3 linked regions of the Homo sapiens genome follow. The protein of the gene in region 2 interacts with the protein of the main gene of each other region in a pairwise test. Each region holds a gene or a part of one and is shown on either strand. Other genes may lie near its edges.

Region 1 (7,038 bases), on a different chromosome or scaffold from region 2:
TGGCCTGGGCCACCTGGACTATGCGGCGGCCAATGATGTTAAAGGCCTCCCGGTGCATTATCCCCCGCACCACTGCTGTCCTCTTGGGCCCAATGTAGCTCATCATGTCCTGTGGGGGTGAGCAAGAGACAGAATGCCCATGGCTCAGAAAAGAAAGCCAAAAAGCACCCTGGCTCCTACTGTTCCGAATCTGCCCCTTTGCCAATGACCAACAGGTTTGCACCTCTCTTGAGATTCATGAGCTATTAACTCAGCATTTCTGAGCTATGAGTATATATTGAGTATTTTCATTTGTCTCCGTTCTCTTCTTTTTCCCAGTTGACATGGGTCCAGGCAGCATCTAACTCTTCAGGGGCTGGTAAAATGGTGAAATGGAAACTCAGAGATGGCATGCTGAGCAAGAAAAGCGGAATAAACAGACAACTGGAGAGTCTGATATAAAAATGGCACATGGCAAAGAAACAAGTATTCATAATAGCATTATTTCTAACAGTAAAACCTAGAAATAATCCAAATGTCCATTAGCAATAGAATGGGTAAATTATGTTTATGTTTATACAATGATACATAGATTCAACTACATAATTATGGATGATTCTCTCACCAGGCTCTGCCACATGAAGGGAATAAAATAAAAGTGGCAGAGGAACATGTGTTATAAGCCACCATTTATATAAATTCAAAAATGTAAAATTAAATACATTGTTTACAGAGATACAGCATATGTGATCAAACTCTAAGGAAAAGCAAGAAAATTACAAACACAAAATCTGGTTGCCTTGGGCCAAAAGGGAATGGAGTATAACCATGGAAGTACACACCGTGCTACTGCACTGCAGTTTGTGAGCTGGGGGTGGGGATGGGGACGTTCATTAACATTTTCTTTAGTGCTTTTATAAAAATTAAATATTTGATTATAAATTTTCTTTTTGAGACAGAGTCTCACTCTGTCGCCCAGGCTGGAGTGCAGTGGCACTATCTTGGCTCATTGCAACCTCCACCTCCTGGGTTCAAGTGATTCTCCTGCCTCAGCCTCTCGAGTAGCTGGGACTACAGGCACCCACCACCACGCCCGGCTAATTTTTGTATTTTTAGTAGAAATGGGGTTTCACCATGTTGACCAGGCTGGTCTCAAACTCCTGACCTCAAGTGATCCGCCTGCCTCGGCCTCCCAAAGTGCTGGGATTACAGGCATGTGCCACCGCACCCGGCCGATTCTTGTATTGTTAGTAGAGATGGGGAGTGCAATGGCATGATATTAGCTCACTGCAACCTCCACCTCCCAGGCTCAAGCGCTCCCCCTGCCTCAGCCTCCAAAAGTAACAGGGACTACCACATCCAGCTAATTTTTTTTATTTTTTGTAGAGATGGGGTTTTGCCATGTTGCCCAGGCTGGTCTTGAACCCCTGAGTTCAAGCAAACTGCCCGCCTCGGCCTCCCAAAGTGCTGGGATTACAGTGTGAGCCACCAGACCCAGCCAGCATTCTTTATTAAAAATATGTGGAGGACGGGTGCGGTGGCTCACGCCTGTAATCTCAGCACTCTGGGGGGCCAAGGCAGGTAGATCACAAGGTCAGGAGTTCGAGACCAGCCTGACCAACGTGGTGAAACCCCATTTCTACTAAAAATACATTACATGGCACATGCCTGTAATCCCAGGTATTCAGGAGGTTGAGGCAGGAGAATCACTTGAACCCGGGAGGCGGAGGCTGCAGTGAGCCGAGATCCCGCCACTGTACTCCAGCCTAGGCAACAGAGCAAGACTCCGTCTCAAAAAAAAAAAAATTTTTTTTTGGAGAGTTTTCTGTAGCAAATGGAAGAAATGGGTAGCAATGATGCAAGAAGGAGGTGACCCAGGAGTCCACGAGCTGAAGGGATAAGGCAAAGTCGCAGCCTCTCTGTTACCTTACCTGGGGAAGAAGTGAGGAGTGTTCAGATATCACGTACACAGTCAGGGAGCCCTCCGCTTGTTCCTGAGGCTCATCTAACATGGCTTCTGCCTCTGGGGGCAAGAACAGGTGGTACACCAAGAGCAAAACACCATTCCATCTCCCCCCAGCCCCAAAGAATGCCTAACCCACCCCTTCACTCACATTCAGCTGACACAGTGGTCAGGCTTGGGTAAGCCAATCAACCTCTCTGGCCCTCAGTGGACTGGGCTGAATCCCACAGTTCCTCATTCCCAGCATTCCAAGAGAGGTTTTGGAAGTAAGCCAAAGCATGGGAACTATGCACTTAGAGATCAGAAGGAAAAAGAGGGCTTCACATTAAAATGGTGTGCTCATCCCTTCCCATACCTTGCACACTGCCCGATGACAGGGCCTCCTCCTCATGGTCCAAAGCCCTCCGATAGGCCTTCTGGAAACGGCATTTGATTTTCATTTTGTCTGGGAGGGATAAGAAGTAGCACAATGAAAAGGGCAAGCATCATGCCTCTGCCCACCTTCCCAGACCTAACACTGTCCAGCATCTGAGGACAGCAAGATGGCTGTTTACAGAAAAAGACCAAGCAGCTGCAGCCAACTCTAATGATTTCTGCATAGATGATATCAAACACATGACACCCATTTCGCCCATCTGCCGCAGCTCTTGCCTTCACCTCTGCACACACTGGTCCTTCAGCGTGAAACGTCTTCCCACTGGGAAATCTATTTCAATAGTCATTACATTAATAGGCAAAAGGAGAAAAACTGTATGGTCATTCCAATCACTGCCCCAAAATAATTAAATTCAGTGAATGTTCCTGATAAAAAACAAAATACACAGGCTGGGCACGGTGGCTCATGCTTGTAATCCCAGCAATTTGGGAGGCCAAGGCAGGCGGATCCCTTGATCTCATGAGTTGGAGATTAGCCTGGACAACATGATGAAACCCCAACTCTACAAAAAATACAAAAATTAGCCAGGTATGTGCCAGACATGGTGGCTCACACCTGTAATCCCAGCACTTTGGGAGGCCAAGGCGGGTGGATCACCTGAGGTCAGGAGTTTGAGACCAGCCTGGCCAACGTGATGAAACCCCATCTCTACCAAAAATACAAAAAATTAGCTGGGTGTGGTGGCAGGCGCCTGTAATCCCAGCTACTCGGGAAGCTCAGGCAAGAGAATCACTTGAACCCAGAAGGCGGAGGCTGCAGTGAGCCGAGATCACACCATTGCACTCCAGCCTGGGCAACAAGAGCGAAACTCCATCTCAAAAAAAAAAAAAAAAAGGCAGTTATGGTGGTGCACACCTGTAGTCCCAACTACTTGGGAGGTTGAGGTGGGAGGATGACTTGAGCCTGAGAGGCAGAGGTTGCAGTGACCTGAGATGGCACCACTGCACTCCAGCCAGGGTAATAGAACCAGACCTTGTCTCAAAAAAATAAAAAATAAAAACCACACACTTAATGACAAAATATTAAACATAATTCTGTAAAGTTAGTAATAAAACAAGGATGCCTGCTATCTCCTCTATTCTCATTGTTATTCAGTATTGTTCTTTCTAAAGTTCTTGACCAATGTAATATGTGAAGAAAGAGAAAGAAAACTTAAAAGTATTGGAAAGAAACAGATAAAATGGCCACTTTGAAGTAGCATAATTATTTCTCAAGAAAATCAGAGAACCAACTGAAAAACTATTAGAACTAGCAACAGTTCAATAAGATGACTAGATACAAGGATATGCAAGAATCAATACCCGCATAAATACCAGCAATATCCAATTAGAAACATCTTTTAAAACCTCAATCACATTAACAATAAAGTATAAAAATACCCAGGAATAAATGTATAAAACTATAAGAAGAAAACTTCAAGACTTTACTGAAGGACATAAAATATCTGAACAAAATGGAATAGCATACAAGGCCCCTAGATGAATATTATAAAGATGTCATATTATAAAGACTATTATAAAGATGTCAACTCTCCCCAAATTAATATATACATGTAAGGCAATCCTGAAGGGATTTTTTTTGCCTCCTGAAACTTGACAAGCTAAACCTAAAATTTATTGAAAAAGTTCCTCTTTTCTTTATAAAAGAATTCCAGGTCATACATTTCTTCCAGAAAGAAGAAATGACAGAATTGTAAAAGTCACTAATTTGGCCAGGTGTGGTGGCTGATGCCTGTAATTCCAGCACTTTAGGGTCCGAGGTGGGAAGATTGCTTAAGCCTAGGAGTTTGAGACCAGCTCGGGGAACACAGTGAGACCCCGTCTCTACAAAAAATTTAAAAACTAGCTGGGGCCAGGTGCACTGGCTCACGCTTGTAATCCCAGCACTTTAGGAGGCCAAGACAGGCGGACTGCTCGAGGCCAGGAGTTCAAGACCAGCCTGGCCACCATGGTGAAACCCCGTTTCTACTAAAATTACAAAAATTAGCCAGGCATGGTGTCTGTGCACTTGTAGTCCTAGCTACTCAGGAGGCTGAGGCAGGAGAATCACTTGAACCCGGGAGGCGGACGATGCAGTGAGCTGAGATTGCGCCACTGCACTCCAGCCTGGGTGACAGAGTGAGACTCTGTCTCAAAATAAATAAATAAATAAACAAATTAAATAAAATAAATAAAAAATTAGCTGGGCACAGTGGCACATTCTTGTAGTCTCAGCTACTTGGGAGCTTGAGAGCTTGAGGTAAGAGGACCACTTGAACCCAGGAGTTCAAGGTTACAGTGAGCTATGATTGGGCCACTGCACTTCAGCCTGAGTGTCAGACCCTATCTCAAAAAAAAAAAAAAAAAAAGGACCCCTTGTCTACTTTTTCTTTTCTTTTTTTTTTTTTTTTTGTTTTTTTGGGTTTTTTTTTGAGATGGAATCTGGCTCTGTTGCCCAGACTGGAGAATAACAGTGGGATCCCGGCTCACTGCAACATCCGCCTCCCCATTTCAAGCAATTCTCCTACCTCAGCCTTCCAAGTAGCTGGGATTACAGGCATGTGCCACCACACCCAGCTAATTTTTGTATTTTTAGTAGAGACAGGGTTTTCCCATGTTGAGCAGGCTGGTCTTGAACTCCTGACCTTAAGTGATTTACCCGCCTCAGCCTCCCAAAGTGCTGGGATTACAGGCGTGAGCCACCGCGCCCAGCCTACTTTTTTTTTTTTTTTTTTGAGACAGAGTCTCGTTCTGTCTCCCAGGCTGGAATGCAGTGGCACAATCTTGGCTCAATGAAACCTCTGCCTCCTAGGTTCAAGCAATTCTCCTGTCTTGGACTCCAGAGTAGCTGGGACTACAGGCACACACCACCACACCCAGCGAATTTGTGTATGTTTAGTGGAGAAGGGGTTTCACTACATTGCCCAGGCTGGTCTGAAACTCCTGACCTCAAATGATCCACCGCCTTGGCCTCCCAAAGTTCTGGGATTACAGGCGTGAGCCACTGTGCCTGGCCACACACCAGTAGTCCTACCTACTTGGGAGGCTGAGGTGGGAGGTCTGATTGAGCCTAGGATTTCAAGGCTGCAGTAAGCTATGATTGAGCCACTGCACAGCAGTCTGGGTGACAGAGTGAGACCCTGTCTCTAAAAAAAATAAAAATTAAAAAAAGCATTATCTTGTGACTGCTAATGAAATGGATTCCATGATCAAATAGATGCTAAAAATATGTAAAAGGTTGATGAGAAACTCTAAAATATAGAGATCAGGCTGACAATACCTGAACTCACTACATAATCTTTGCATCACCCAAAATGGAACAACTAGCCATTAAGTGCTTCAGGATACAACACAATAGGAAGTACACTGCACCACCTACAATGTATTCTCATCCAAAAAATTGAACCTGGCTTTAATCAAACCACTAGATCTAACTCCCAGTTTATAAGGAATATGGATGCTAGAGGAATGAGTTAAATTAAACTGTGAGGAAGCTACTCGCCAAATCCCAAATGTGAGATGTTCTATAAAACAAATGACCTGGTTTCTCCAACAAATCAATGGTGTGAAAGAAATGTATGGGGGTAGGGTGGGGGGAGCTGACATAAAATAAAAGTGACAAAAAGACAAATGCAACTTATTGATCCTGATGGAATAAACCATCTGTGAAAGGATACCTTGGAGATAACTGGAGAGATCTAAATACAGACTGAGAATTAGGTGATATTAAGGAATCACTGCTAACTTAGTTAGGTGTGACAATGGTAGTCATGTTTAAAAAAAGAAACAAAAAACCTTCAATGGCTTCCCTTCTTATCTAGAATAAAAGCCTAGAATGCAAATTCTCACAGTGATCTACCAGGCCCTAAGTGATTCAGCCCCCTTCTACTGTTCTGGTTTTATTTCATTTCCTCTTTCTCTCTTCCTCATTCACTCCAGTGAAGCCACAAGGAGATTCTCACTGCTCCTGAAAGGTACAACACTTGCTCTTAACTCGGGACCTTAGACATGCTTTTCCCTCTGCCAAGATGCTCTTCCCCCAGATATCTGCACAGTCTATTCCCTCGCCTTTTAGGTATTTACTCGAATGTCCTCTTTTCAATGAGACCTCCCTTGTCCACCCTATCTAAAACTGCAATCCCCTCCCATTCCTCAAGAAAATTCCCTCTCCTCCTGTCCTGCTCTATTTTTCTTCTGTCACCATCTAACATACATTTGACTTACTTGTCTTTTTTTCTTTTTTTTTTTGAGATGGAGTCTTTGTCACCCAGGCTGGAGTGCAGTGGTGGGATCTTGGCTCACTGCAACTTCCACCTCACAGGTTCAAGCGATTCTCCTGCCTCAGCCTCCCAAGTAGCTGGGATTACAGGCGCCCGCCACCACGCCCGGCTAATTTTTGTATTTTTAGTAGAGATGGGGTTTCACCATGTTAGCCGGGCTGGTCTCAAACTCCTGATCTCAAGTGATCTGCCTGCCTCGGCCTCCCAAAGTGCTGGGATTACAGGTGTGAGCTACCACATCCAGCTTTGTCTTTTTTATTGTCTTCTTCTTGTCTGTTTTGTTCACTGCTATATCTCTAGTAACTAGAACTGTATCTGACATAGCTACAAAGTAAATACTTGTTGAATAAATGAACAACGCTATTACTATTTCCGTCTAACAGATGAGGAAACCAAGGTTTA
Region 2 (7,038 bases):
GTGTGCCATAAAATAGCTGACTGTTGGAAAAATCTCTCACAGAGATATAAAAATAGTGCATAACAAATGTCAAAATGGATCAAGGTTTGGCAGGGTTAAGGTTAGAAAAGAATACTCCAAAAAATCTGGAGGATCATGGTTAAGTAACAAATAGGGAACACTGACAAATAAATTAGTAAAAAGCTCTTCTGAAAACAGCATCAACTTTAAACATTAAAAACTTGAACCACAACCACAATAAAACAGCAGAGTTAGACATGAACCACATATTTTTACAGTACAAAAAAGCACACCACAGACAACCAATATTAAGATCAACACTTTGCTCACATGAAGGATTGTCCCAAGGGTTTGCTATAAGGCAACACCCTTGTAATTTTCTCTCTTTAGAGTCAAAAATCTTAGTTCTGCATTTTTAAAAAACATTTACCATTGTTGGGTGCTTTGCTTAGATTGCAGAGTAACTCTTACATTAAAATATAGGGGCTAGTTGCATTAAAAATGCTCTAAAGAGAAAAAATATCACTAATGATATTCTAATAGTGTTCAGTACCAAGAGAAACTCATTAACTACTGCATGTTTCCATGCCACTTTCTCAAAACACCCCAAAAAACCTGCAAGCAAAGTCATTACCAAAATTCCTTCATGAAAATTTTCAAAAAAGCAATTCTCAACTATTAAGAACAATGTTCCATGCAACAGTGACCCCAGTTTAGACAGAAGACCCCAATATTTATAGGTTAAACACATAAGCAAGTTCAAGCCAGATTTCACCATTGTCTTATAAAGGTAAAATTTAATTTTATGCAACTAGCCATCTGTATATTTCCCCTTCTCCATTTTGACTTTACTTAGGGTTTACTAAAGTTTTGCATTCTTCTAAAAAATTCAGATTTTTAAATATGGGTTTCTTATGGGTCTTACATTTGGTGACTGGTTAGCAGTGTGCTGGCCATCTTTGGTTTATAAAGGATGTCTTAACCATGGACTATCAAAGGGGCTAAAACCAACTTTCTTTAGAATTCTTGTATTTTCTTTTACTCATTCTTTTATCTATACTATATCACTGCACATGAATTAGAACCGCACGTCACAAAATTGCACAGGGATTACAAATATTACATCCAGTCTGCATAAAATCGAATTCCACTACTGACCAGATCACAAAATGGCTGCACTCTCTAATCTAAAACTAATTTGCATATTGTACACATGTAAGACGATTTTTTAAACTTGAAGTCACAATAATGCATGCAAGTTTGCTTTTTTAAACAAATTTTATAATTTGTTCATGCTACCTAGATTCAAGAGAGCTTTTTTGAACATTTGCAATACCTCACCTCGTTAGTTAATAATTCTAGTGCATGCATATGGTGTATACAGGTAAGTAAACATGCATTTTTTTCACATTCTAAAACTATGGCAGTTTAGGCCATATTGTGCTGCCTGCATTTTATCTGCAATGCAGTGTGTCTCTAACGTTTTCAGTCCCGTATTAATAGGTGGCATTTACACATAACACCTATATAGCAGCAAAGCTAATACAGCTTGTGATTAAAAATGTTTAAAAATAGCTAATAAATCAGATTATCTTGAGGTATTATTTCTTGCAAGTCAAAATGGAGAGCAAAAAAATCAACCCTAATTTTTAGTTTATGTATACACTGAAAATAGCAACAATAAAAATAAGCATTTGTAGCAGACATATTCCATCTTCACTATTATTTTGCTACCTTTGGTAAATTACTGGGGCAGATCTTGAAGTTAAAAACCCATGTTTAGAAATAAGTGCACGCTTCCCCCACTATATAGCAGCAGACTGTGTTGCCCCTACGCAAAACATTCTCATATCTAATTTTAACTTTACATATAAAAATAACTTGGAGAAAATACAAAAAAACATTTTATTTGAACATGAAAATATCACAAAAATTAGTAAGCCTGAGATGTAGGGTTTTGGTGAAAAACAAGAGGCTTGTAGTGTTTTGGCTGCTGATAAAGATGCATGTATTGATAGCTGGGGTGAAAAGCAGAAGAATGCACTTATTTCTTCTGCATGTCAGTATCTTCAGACACAGTAAGCCACATGCACCCTTTCTTTCCTTGTTAAACAGAGGCCAGTTTGCTATTCTTAGTTCCAGCGGAAGTGGATCTGACGTGGGCGATCAGCACCTTCCTTTACCAATGGCTTATGGAACTCACGTCCAGCACGAGAGTGGATATTTGCCCAACAAAACTCACAGTAATACTGCAGGCAAGTGACATTGGCACAAAAAAAGGGAGCAAATTTTCCACCACAGCGTGCGCCCTGGCATTCATCACACATCTGGTCATCTAGCACATATGGCTTTACCTCCACCTTGAAAAAAAAGAAAGTTAAGTCTCATTAGGGTCTGCTTCAGAAATCAAATTCTGTAATAACTTAAAATGTTCTACAGCAGAAAAAAAGGACCAGCATTAAAAGCTGAGGAAATGGGCAGTTTCTCAAGGAAGGAGCTTTACAATGTAGTAGGTTAAAACACTTTAAAAATCTATAAAAATCTGATTTGCAAAACATTCCACTCTCACCTTTCTTGAATAACATCTTTGAAACACCTGTGTGCTGGTATTTTCAGAGTTAGGGGAGATTATGAGTGAAAAACAAAAGAGATATCAAGTAGTCATGGAAGACAGTTTCCACACCTTTTCCCCTCATTCCAGTATCACCTGTGAGATGGCAGAACCCGAACAGCCACTGATTAAGGCGGCGCCTCTCCACTGCAGGTGCGAGTCACACTCTGCTTGGAAATAACTGGCACAGACAAGCCAGAACTGTGGAGAATCTTACAAAGGGCATGCCTAGACTTCTGTAAATTTATAAGATATAAAGCACAAGTCCCGTTGTGAAGGTCTGACTTGGCAGAACACTTCAGACTGGAGTCAGCTCTGAATGATAAACTTCTCCACCTCAGTTTCCACATCTGTCAAGTGGGAATAACAGATCCTGTCAGAGTTGTGAGGCTTAAATTGTGAATGTAAAAGCATAAGACAGTGCTCGGCACATGGTAAAATATTCTATAAATTAGTATTAGCTACTATTAGCTGCAATAGCCTTGCTTTCCTGCTTGTGATAACTTTATGAATGGAAGGTTTTTACTGTTGTTTGGCTGAAAAGTGCCAGACAGCATAACAGCTCAGCCGTTCCTTAGGAGACAACAGAACACTGAGTGTTCTGAAGGACTGGATTGACATAAAGTAAAGGTTGCCTATAGTAAAAAGTAATGACCCAACAGTTTGTATTCTGAATGTATTCTACTGAAATACTTGCATGAGTGCAGAAAATGAATATAAGGATATTTTCCGCAATATTATTTGTAAGAACAACAACAAACTAGAAACAACCTAAAAGTTGATTACAAGAACTGTAGGATGTTCATTTGATAGACAGGTAATGGAATTACATTGTTGTTTATATTTCATTGATTAGGATTAGGATAAATATATTTTATGTATATTCGACACTTGGCTTTTCTGAATTGCTTGTTTGTATCTTTTGCATATTTTCTTGCTGGAGTTTTGTTTGTTTTTTAAATTGATTTATGAGTTCTCTTTTGTCAGTTAAGAGTTTTTAACCTTTTTTCCAGTGGCTTTACAATCTTTAACACAAATTTTTAAAATTGTTATGCTTAATTTTTATCTCTCAACTTTTTCCTTTATGGGAACATTATTACAAACAAAGAATAAATTAAGGTAGCATGAGAGTTAACTGGATTTCATCTCACTGAATTATAAACTCCATGAACACTGGGACAGCACCCATTTGCTCAACATTCAGTTCCCAGTGCCTAGAAGAATATCTAGCACGAAGTAGAAATGCTATAAATATATGCATAAATGCAATACATTTACATATGTTTTCTGGGTTTCTTTCTCATGGTTATTTCTTTTTTTTTAAAATAAGATTTTAGACAGATTGAAACCAGGGTCTGTGATGTTTACTTCACTTCCATAATACCTGATAAAACACCAGATGTTCAGGAGTTACATTTTAATATAAAACTGTTGAATGAAAATTTCACAAATGCAATGATTTCAATTATTTGTATTTTTAAAATTCTAGATATTAGTTTTATGAAGCTAACCTACTTTACTCAAAACCAGACTTTAAAGATGGAAAATTGAATTTCAAAACCTATTTTTCATTAATAATCTCTAATAATTAAACTCTTCTATATGCAAAAGGAAGTTTCATTAACACTACACTTCACCTAGTCTTATTTTCTAACATTTACTAGAAGTCACAGTGAATTATACTACTTATGAAATAACATACAAAAAAATATAATGAATTACACATCTGTGGTGACTGCTTTCCAGCTATCAGATAGGAACTAAACCACAGTATCCATGAGTCTAAAAAGTTAAGTGGAATAAACAATTTTCATTCCCGCCAAATAAGTATCCCGTGTATCTCTGGGTTGGCAGTTATACACGTATATTTATTCAATTTTTATGGTTTAATAACCATATTCATATTGGAGAGATGAAAGGTATAAAGGTTAATGGTTTAATATTTCTTTGTATAAGCAATATTAGTGACTTGTAAAATATTTAAGGCTCAAATTCTTTCAAATACAGTTCAAAATTACCTTTGTAGCACATATCTTAGAAAATAAGCTTTTCCCTCAGGTATTTCAATGCCTTTTTAAGAAGGCACATGTATCTCAATTCATCTGCTCTGCAACTGAGTTGCTCTTTAAGAGTCAGTACTCTGCTCCAAATAATCGGTCCTTCACTATAATTTCAGAAACAAAGAGGTATGAGGTATGACACTGTAACAGTCTTTTTCTTCTGGTAGTGTATATTAAATACCATGATTACATACTATGTAAATAACGTCGTCTGTGACCTATCACCTCTCTGTTAGCGGTCTAAACCACTGCTGTACATTTGTGTCACTTCCGGAGCTTTATAACCAATTCAGCAGAACCTCAGGGGGTAGGACCCAAATGTCAAGATTTTTCTAAGTTCCCAGGTGAATAATGTACAGCAGAGGTTGAGAAACACAACACTACAGGAACTCTTAATGTTCAGACAAGTTCAGAAAAGTTACGTATGCGTGTCTTGTCAAAAGCAGAGCACCTCCTCTTAGTTTTTTTTTTTTGGCAACCTTTTAAGTAGCAATGCAAACAAACAAAAAAAACCTACTCTGCATTTGTGAACTGAACCTATGCTGCATTTCTTTTCTAAATGAGACGGTTGGGTAATTACATTGAGGACTACTTCTAGCATGCATGGTCTAGTCAATCGGTATTAATTAACCAGCTTCCCTGTCCCCAAAATAGTCTTTTAATGTGCCAAACAGCCCCAGAAGAGGCTTGAAGAAACTGTTATATTGGGGAAAAGGAGTACCCACTCAAATTGTATCTTCTATCTACTAATTCAGATATAAAAAATTCATTTACCCGCATATTCTTAATGTATTTCTGCTATACTATAATTATAAACATGATTATTTTATAATATATTTAGCTATGTATAGGAACTGTTCACAGATTTTGGCATAAAATAGATTTGTAAATGAATGCTAGTGTCTTTCCCTATTTTAGAAGGTAGTCAGTACTTGGAATTATTCAGTAGGGGTTTCAGTTATCATTCCTAGTACTTCTTACAAGTTCTTATTGTGATGATTCAAGCAATGCTACTAAAAAAATTTTAAGTTTAGGTCAATTATTTTAGAGAAATACACACAATGCATTTTTATTTTAGATTTTGTGACAAATGAAAACAAACATTTAAATAACACTCTCCGTCAAGTTCTATTCTAAGTGCTTATATATATGTAAATTCATTTAATCCTCAAAATTACTGAGAAAGACATGTTATCATTGTTTTCTATTTTACAAGTGAGGAAAAAGAGGCATACAGAAGGTTAATTTGTAGAAATGGGGTTCAATCCCAGGCAGTCTGACTCCAATGTACAGGCTCTTAAAACAACCTCTGCCTCCACGGTTAGAATATTTGACCTTACTGGCTGATTAAAAAATTTTGACATGGCTGCACAATGATATTAATATTTTTACATTATATCTAAAGTTTAAAGTGTGTTCAGTAATTTTCCATTTCAAGGATATTTTTATATAATATCCTTTAAGACTTACAGAAGTATAAAAATTAAAGTGTTCAAATTATATTATTAACTCGTTAGGGTATGAGGCTTTGGATCAGCACCTTATTATAGGACATAAGTGATTTCCCAATATGCAACTTACACGTTTATCAATATCACCATGCTGAAGCTGAACAAACCGAGCACTAATGGCAGCAATATAGCTCTGCTGATTGGAGAAAGCAACTCGCCCAGCACCTTTTGGGTATTTTAGCTCAGGATCTGTATCAATTCCTGCATAACAAACTCCACCATACAGCCGGTCCATGATCATAGCAAGTTCCACTTGAAAAGGAAAAGAAGTTTACATCAAATGTGAGAGAACACAGTAATCAACAATTTTTAAGTACTTTTTGTAAAACGTAAAAGTCAATAGTATATTATCATTTGACCAGGAGTAGAATGGCAGATAAGAGGCTGTTGTTAAAAAAGGACGGGGATCGAGGATGCTTTTTTTAAACTATAAAGTGACTCACCACCATCACATCTACCTACTTACAGCACTAAACCCACTATATACTCTATCTTCTGTCCTATAGAGAAATAGTTCCATGCTCTTTCCTAAATCCAATCCTTTCACTTGCATACTAGATCCCATACACTCTCACTTAGGACACTGCTTCAGCAATTCTCCCCTTTCCCTTCTATACAATCAATTTTCCCAAGTACACTATAATTTTCCTATCTTAAAAAAAATTCCCATAACACTTTTTCTCCCTCTCAGCTACTGCTCCATTTCTCTGTTCCCCTTTACAACCAAATTTCTCAAAATCTGTTCCAGTATTCCCCCCAATTCCTCTCCTCCCTTTCTCTTTATTCAACTCTTTTTCTAACCAGACTATCACACCATGACTCCACTATAATTGTTCAAGCCAAGTCCAATGGTCAA
Region 3 (7,038 bases), on a different chromosome or scaffold from region 2:
CTCCCTTCTTGGATTGAAGCCCATTCTGTTCACAGGAAGACTGCAAGGTGCCGAGTCACACTGTTCACTGGTTTATTGAGATTCGGGGAGATCCTTCCCCAAGAGACACCACAGTGTGAAAGGGACACCACCTCCCACCCCATAGGTCCATCTGTCTATCCCAACAGTCAAGGGTGCCTTCCTTTGGTCAGGATTCTCATCAACTATCCACTGGAAGCAGCTCTCCAAACCTGCCCCCACTTATTTTTCCTTAATTCCCCTCAAAAAAACACAAAACAAAAGGGAGCAGTCTTGGGAGAAGATGATTGTGAGTGTAGACTGAGGGTAGTACATGAATGCAATGGAGATGGGGGGAATCTGAGCAGAAATGGAGATTCTGTGACAAGGAGAGGGTGTGGATGGCCCCACCAAACATGAATTGGGGAAAAGTGCATAACAATGTGCAGGGTAGGGTACATATGGCTCTGTCAGAAGAATACCATGATTTAAGGGAAGAAAGTACACAAGGTACATGGAGGGTACACAGGGAAAGTACATGGATAAACATGGACGTGTGCAAATAGGAAAGACATGACTCAGCATGCTAGACAAATTGCACATGCCTACCCAAACACGCTCAAGGGCAGACCCATGACCATGAGAGGGGCACACGTAGCTGTGAATGCAGGGCACCCGAGAGCACATGTGACTGAACATGAAGAAAGCATACGGGAAAAGCGTGTGTACACATGAGCATGTTCAGTGGGCACACGCAGGAGAGGGGAGGATGCATGTGTGCTGAGCGTGAGTGCACAGAGCAGAGGCAAGGAGCATGTGAGCCTTGGCGAAAAGAATGAGCTCCCAAAGGAAGCAAAATTCAGGGGGAGCCACATGTGAGAAAGTATAGAAGGGCAAGTAAGATGGAAAGAGATTATGACAGTGGAGAAAAGGAGAGGCCCCTTTGGGGTGGAAAGAGCACTTGTTGGGAGACCCCTGCTGGACAGGAACAGAGCACAAAGGCAGAGGAGCTGCAGGGGTTGCCGTGGTAACTAGAAGAGGGTGTTGCATGGGAAGAGAAAGATGCAGTGAGGCTGCTGAGGAGGCAGCGTGTGAGCAGTGAGCAGCTTCAAGCCAGGTACGAACTAAATTGTGAAGAGGTGATACAAAATTACATGAAGCAGTAAGAGAGAAAAAGGTCTGTTTCCCAGAGGTATGAGAGACCCAAATCAGCCCAGAACTCACAGGGGGACATGTATTTACAAGAGATGAGATTGGATAGCATGTTCTTCCCAGCTGGGGATGGGGACCCCCTGCTTCCTGAGTCCCCTGCCCTTCCCCTCTCCCTTTCCCTCCCCCTACTGGCCTGTCCTCCCTCACCCTACCCTCACTTATAAAGCAAATGCACTCGACTCCCATCACAGCTAAGCCGGTCGGGGGGCTCAGGGGGTCCCCTGGGCAGGCCCCCAGAGGGTTCTGGGGGTGTCGGTGGGTGGCGCCGGGAGCGGAGCTGCTGCCGAGACTGGAGTTGATGGCGCAGTTCAGAGACACGCTCCTCTTTCTGGAGGAAGAAGCACAATTGGGATAGTAGGAGAAGAGGAGGTGATGAAGGAGTGGGGAGGAGGGAAAGAGAGGAAGGGCACAGGGAAAGAGAGGAAGGGCACAGAAAAATGTAGGGGGAGGACGTAGGGTAAGTGGACAGAATAAATTAAAAGGAGAAATCAAAACAGAACAAGAAAAGCCAGAGAACATAAGGATACCGATAGAAAAAATGCGATCAGGGAAATAAGAGAGAATTTAAAAACAAAAGGAAAAAGTGGGGAAGGAGAGAAAAGTCAGTGCACAGAGCTTCCAATAAATCAGAGAGATGTGTCAACCCAGTTGGAACATCCCTCTCTTTGGCATTGCACCAGCCCCTAATGACAGCCTGGGGCACAGTGAACGCCTGCCCAGGTCCTTTATGCTGGGGCTGCATGCTACACCCAGCTGCTGTGAGTGTTGACTACTAGAGGCTCACAGCTGCCTCTCTCCAGTTGTCACCTACAGCCAACAGCCATCCTCTTGCCTTAAGGAGGCTGAGTCAACCACATAGCTCCCACTCCAGAGCCCTTCCACCTGCCAGGCCAACACTGGATTTTGCCTGAGATAGAATCTTGCTCAGCCCTTTCCCCTCCCCTATGCTGCTCCATTCACTCCTTACAGGTTGTCTCCTAGGACCCTCCCTCCATGAGCCAAGAACATCTGACCCTGTATCTCAGGCTTGGCTTCAGACAACCCAAGCTAAGACGCAAGCCTCCTGGACCACTCCAACACCCTACCCTGACACCCACCCCCGCACCTCAGCAATGATCTTTTCCAGTTCACGGTTCTCCTTCTCCAACAGCCGGGACTTCTCCTCCTCGTTGTTGTTGGTCGATGACCCTGTCTTCATGGTGTCCTGCGCCTCCGACTGCCATTCCCCTCGGGTGATCAGCCTGCGCATCTGGGGGCAAATGTTTGGGCGTGGGGTGGCCCAGCAAGGACTGTACTAGTGACTGGCTGATGGAAGGTTGGAGGTGGAAGGAATGCTGATAAGAGTTGGGCCCAAAACAAGGGGAGGAGTGAGAGGAGGGTGAACGGAAGGGCAGAGGAACTCAGTAATATAGGAAGGAGGGATGGAGGGAACATGGGAACAAAGAGGGTGGGAGAAAAGCCAGATCCTTACCTTGGGCACAAAGAGCACAACAAGAGTGATATAGGAGGAGAAAACTATGGCAAGAGAGGCAAAGGCAAAGGCTGCATCCTGCTGGCTGGACAGAATCATGGTGACAGGAGCAGTGATGAGGCACAGGACCTAGAGGGAAAGACACATTGAGGGAGTCTCAGGTCTGCAGGCTCAGACAAGATCCAGAGTTTACTTCCCATGGGAGGGAGTCTATGCAGACAGTTTCCTGGTGAACTTTCCCTTTGAAAAGGATCCAAATTCAGGATCATCCTCAAATATAGATTGAGAAAAATCTCAAACTGTCCCAAACCAGTTTTCACTCTTGGTTAACCCCTCCCCTCAAGGCAGGAACTCCCAGGATCTCTATGCACAGATTCCGGGTCCTCCAGAGTCGGTCCCTGGCAGGAAATGTCAATAGAGTCCAGCCCATTAACCACAGACAAGCAATTTAACGTCTCTGTGTTTCTGTTTCCTCACCTATAAAGTGGGGATACTAATATCTACTTCACTGGGTAGTTGCAAGATTAATGATACAATGTCTGTAGTGAGCTTTGTAAACTGTAAAGTGCTTTATAGACCTGAAGAATTAACAAACTTTTTAAGACTTCTAAGCAACCGATCCCAGATCTAGCATTGATTCTTCCTAGTCCTCTATATCTGGGCTGCTGTGGTCAGCCTACAGGGTCAATGCCATGGGGTCAGTGCTCACTGCCACATTGTAGATAGCCATGCCCACAGCCCGGTGATCATTGATCTTCTCAGTGGACACACTCTTGGTCTCATAAGCAAGGAAGATTCCCAGCAGCAGCAGCAGCCCCTTGTAACCATAGAAAATGCCTAGGATGGCAGGAGAGAGTCACTTGAGCAACAAGGACCACAATGCTCCTCACTCAATCCCCATCCCCTCTCTGCCCTTCACCTACTCTGAAATGGAAAGGGGGCCCTCCTCTCCAATCCAACCCCTCTGACCTAGCAAACCTCACCCTGTGTCCCCTATCCCTTATGTCCACCCAACTTGCCCAGACCACATCACTTTTTCCTGGGATTCACACAGGAAAGCAATGGTGGCAAGCTGCTGTCAGTCAGGCAAGGGCTTGTTGAATATCTAGAAATAGGCCAGTCTGGGCCACACATGCCTCACCCTTACCCTACAGGTGGGAAGGTGGCTTTCCAGGCAGAGGGTAGGTTTGCAATTTGTGACCATGAATCGAACAATGCTAATAAGGCCAAGGGGGATCTAAAAGATAATGTCAAGTCTGGAGGTGGGGTTACCCCCACTTGTTCCTCTGCTGAACACAAGTTCTTCATCTGTGCTTTCTGTGCTTTGGGCCCTAAGCTCCTCATAGCAAAAGAGCAACTCTCCCCTATTCTCAGAAAAGATTAGTGCAATAACAAAGAGTAGGGTGTTCAAACTGGGTTGACAAGCTCTCTACCTCCTCTTCCAAAGACCCCTCTCCCTCCAAGCCCTCTACCCCTGCCTTCCCTCCTGCCTTTGTGCATCCCTGCCCTCCTTTGCCCACATCCCACACACCAAGCCATGTATTCATCTTCCTGGAGCTGCAATGCTCCAGCTGGGGCAGAATAGAGACGTCAATATCTTCCTTAGGTTCCTCCTTGGCAAATGTCTAGGGCAGAAACAAGGTCACAAGAAAGATGGTTGCCAGCCTCCCCTCCTCTCCTCAACGCTTCTCAGTCTCTGGCTTCCAACTGTTTTCCTATGAGACCCTCAATGCTGATGCCAAATCTCATTCTAGGCCTAAGAATGTTTTCCTGAACCCTTGGAGGTGCTTGTTCCCCACTTTCCCTGATGCCTGGAAGTTCTACACACCCTTCCCAGATTCCCACCCCTTCCTTTCTTCAGCTGAATCTGGAGGCCTATGAGGGGCTCCTTCTAGGAAGGAAAGGAAGAGCTTCCAATACGAGGAAGGCACTCTCTCCAAGTAGCTTCATCCCTCAAGACACACACAGCCCCAGGGCCCTGATGGCCACTGAGCCCTGCTCATTCTCCTGACCATAGCACCTCCTCTCCAGTGGTACCTCAATGGTCCGGTGCAGAGGGTCCACGATCTGCCAGATGGCGAGAGTGAGGACATCCATGCCCACCAGCAGGCCCACTGTGGCATACAGCTTCCAGGGTTCCAGAGTCTGGATAAATATGTGGGGAGAACAGGCACGTCAGGGGAAAATGCTCTGTGCCCCAGGAGCCAAGGATCTGGGGGCTGAGGATTGGGCAGCAGCTCACCTTCCTCCACTCCTTCTTTTCTTCCTTCTTTGTGAAGACCGTGTGGACCCACCAAATCTTGGTGAACATGGAACCGTAGCCCAGACTAAAGCCCAGGCCCAGGAGCCAGAGGCGGGCCTAGAAAGGAAGAGAGGGCACAGGCAGAACAGGGTAGAGTAGTAGCCGGGACTGCAGTAAGGATGGGCAGAACCCTAAGGGAGAGTGGGCAGGGAGCACGGGCAGGGAGCTCATGGTGGCACAGGGAGGATGCGAAAATGTGAGCAGGACGGGGAGCGGCAGGAGGAGAGCAGTCTCCCCACCTTGAACAATTCCTCCCATCCACCCTCTACTTCCACACCACCAGGGTGATCTTGCTAAAACCTCCTGGCTTTAGTGGCCAAAAACCTCCAACCACTCCCCAATATCTATAAGTTATAGCCTGAACACTTCTGGATATGACACAGACCCTTCACAACATGCTCCCATCCACCTGTCCAGCTAGGCTCATCTCCCAGCCCCACACCTACCCCACGCTCCAGCCATGCTGAACTACTCACTTTCTCTTCATCTACTCTCTTTCATGTATTTTCTAGCCACACGATGCTCCCTATGCCCCTGAAGTAGCCTTCCTCTATTTCTCTAGCTGATAAAATCCTATTTGTCCTTCAGTATTCAAATGCCACCTCTTCAGTGAGGTCCACCCAATCACGCCAGCAGTGAACTGTGTTCCCTTCTTTGCCCCCAAAGCACTTTGTGCAGATCCCTACTCTGGAACCTCTCCTATTGCACTACAGCTAATTGTCTGCTTCTCCAGCTGCACTCTGGCCTCACTGGGAACAGAGGATTCCTGATGAACTGCATGTGCATGTGCATGGAAATGCCATGTGCACAGATGTATGATCAGGACAGCACAGAGCAGAGGAAAAAGAGAGAGCAAGGACAGGCAGGCAGATCAGGAGAAAGAGTGGGTGTTTCCACCAGTGGAAAAGAGAACCACTCAACTATCACTGTTGAAGCTGGCCTCTCCCCACAGCACTAGAACCTTCCATGTACCAACAGTCCCAGAGCCCCTCCTCCCTGTGTGGCAGTGGTCCCTTCCCCCCAACTCTCTGCTGTGTTTCCATCTCTGCTTCTATCCTTCCAAACCCAACAAAGGCTCCCAAAAAAAGTCCACAGTTCTGATTCTCAGCCCCCATACCACAGACAAGCCACCATTGTTCAGGAGACCTTTGAGCAGATCCCCTTCCTTTGCCTTCAATGGCTCCCTCCTCTTCTCTGCAAGGCCTGCCATGGCAACCTTGGAACTGACAAGTAAACTACAGAATGAAAATGGCCTGCAGACACAGAAAGAAGGGACAGAGCCAAACAGAGAACAGAGGGGTGATGCTAGAAGGAAAGAACAGGGACAAGAGTCAGGGAAAGCTGAGGAGGAAGGGCAGAGAATCATAAATCATGGAAGGTGCTCCTGAGACGGGTGGGAGAGTCACATCCTGTAAGGAATTTGCCCACCACCTCCTCACCTGGCAGACGAAAGGAAACTGGTTCCTCCCAATGTGGTAACCATCGAGCCCCAGGGGGAAGACAGCAGCTAAAGCCAGTGAGCAGCCCACAGCAGTCAGGTTGTTCAGGTTGGGCTGTGAGTTCTGGATATAACTAGGGCAGAGGTGGAGAGGGTGAGAGGGAGAGAGAATTACCCCTCTTCTCCAGGGAGGCTGAGCTCTCCAAATACCACGCAATGGCATGACCCTAATTTCAGGGCCAGGGGCTAAAGGAAGACAGGATTGGAGAAGACAGTGGAGCCTTGAGAGGCAGAGCAATGCAGTCATGGGGCTGAAGATGGAGTTGCAGAGGGCTTCCCAAGCACAGGCCCCCACTAGAATACAGGCTATTTATGTAGAGTCCAAGACTGTGAGACCTGGCCCCAAAGGTTGTTTTTTTCTCTTCTTTTCTTTTTTCCTCCCGTTAGCTACTTTGGAGTAGGAGTGGGGGTTATATCTGGTTTCCCTGTTTTCATTCTCAACAAGTCAGAATGAAAAACTCCATGATACATGGCCATGGGAGTTACACAGGTTTTATTCTCATCCTGTCCAGGAACATGATCAGTATCTCAGAGAGGCAGACAAGGAAAACGTCAGAA

The links. The genes of interacting proteins can lie anywhere in the genome.
Region 1: the proteins of CPEB2 (region 2) and PIGS interact in a two-hybrid assay, tested with the Homo sapiens proteins (one study listed by BioGRID).
Region 3: the proteins of CPEB2 (region 2) and GABBR1 interact in a two-hybrid assay, tested with the Homo sapiens proteins (one study listed by BioGRID).

The regions. Positions count from the first base shown.
Region 1 is NC_000017.11:28,561,521-28,568,558, forward strand, and holds part of PIGS (GPI-anchor transamidase component PIGS), read right to left. Parts: intron 2,388-7,038; coding exon 2,298-2,387; intron 2,003-2,297; coding exon 1,911-2,002; intron 110-1,910; coding exon 1-109. UniProt on the Homo sapiens protein: Component of the glycosylphosphatidylinositol-anchor (GPI-anchor) transamidase (GPI-T) complex that catalyzes the formation of the linkage between a proprotein and a GPI-anchor and participates in GPI anchored protein biosynthesis.
Region 2 is NC_000004.12:15,061,475-15,068,512, reverse strand, and holds part of CPEB2 (cytoplasmic polyadenylation element-binding protein 2), read right to left. Parts: intron 6,435-7,038; coding exon 6,253-6,434; intron 2,361-6,252; coding exon 2,133-2,360; 3' UTR 1-2,132. UniProt on the Homo sapiens protein: May play a role in translational regulation of stored mRNAs in transcriptionally inactive haploid spermatids. Binds to poly(U) RNA oligomers. Required for cell cycle progression, specifically for the transition from metaphase to anaphase.
Region 3 is NC_000006.12:29,602,180-29,609,217, forward strand, and holds the end of GABBR1 (gamma-aminobutyric acid type B receptor subunit 1 isoform a precursor), read right to left. Parts: intron 6,555-7,038; coding exon 6,422-6,554; intron 6,324-6,421; coding exon of another isoform or gene 6,288-6,323; exon of another isoform or gene 5,040-6,287; coding exon 4,923-5,039; intron 4,826-4,922; coding exon 4,718-4,825; intron 4,306-4,717; coding exon 4,212-4,305; intron 3,518-4,211; coding exon 3,390-3,517; intron 2,810-3,389; coding exon 2,681-2,809; intron 2,459-2,680; coding exon 2,315-2,458; intron 1,538-2,314; coding exon 1,364-1,537; 3' UTR 59-1,363; downstream 1-58.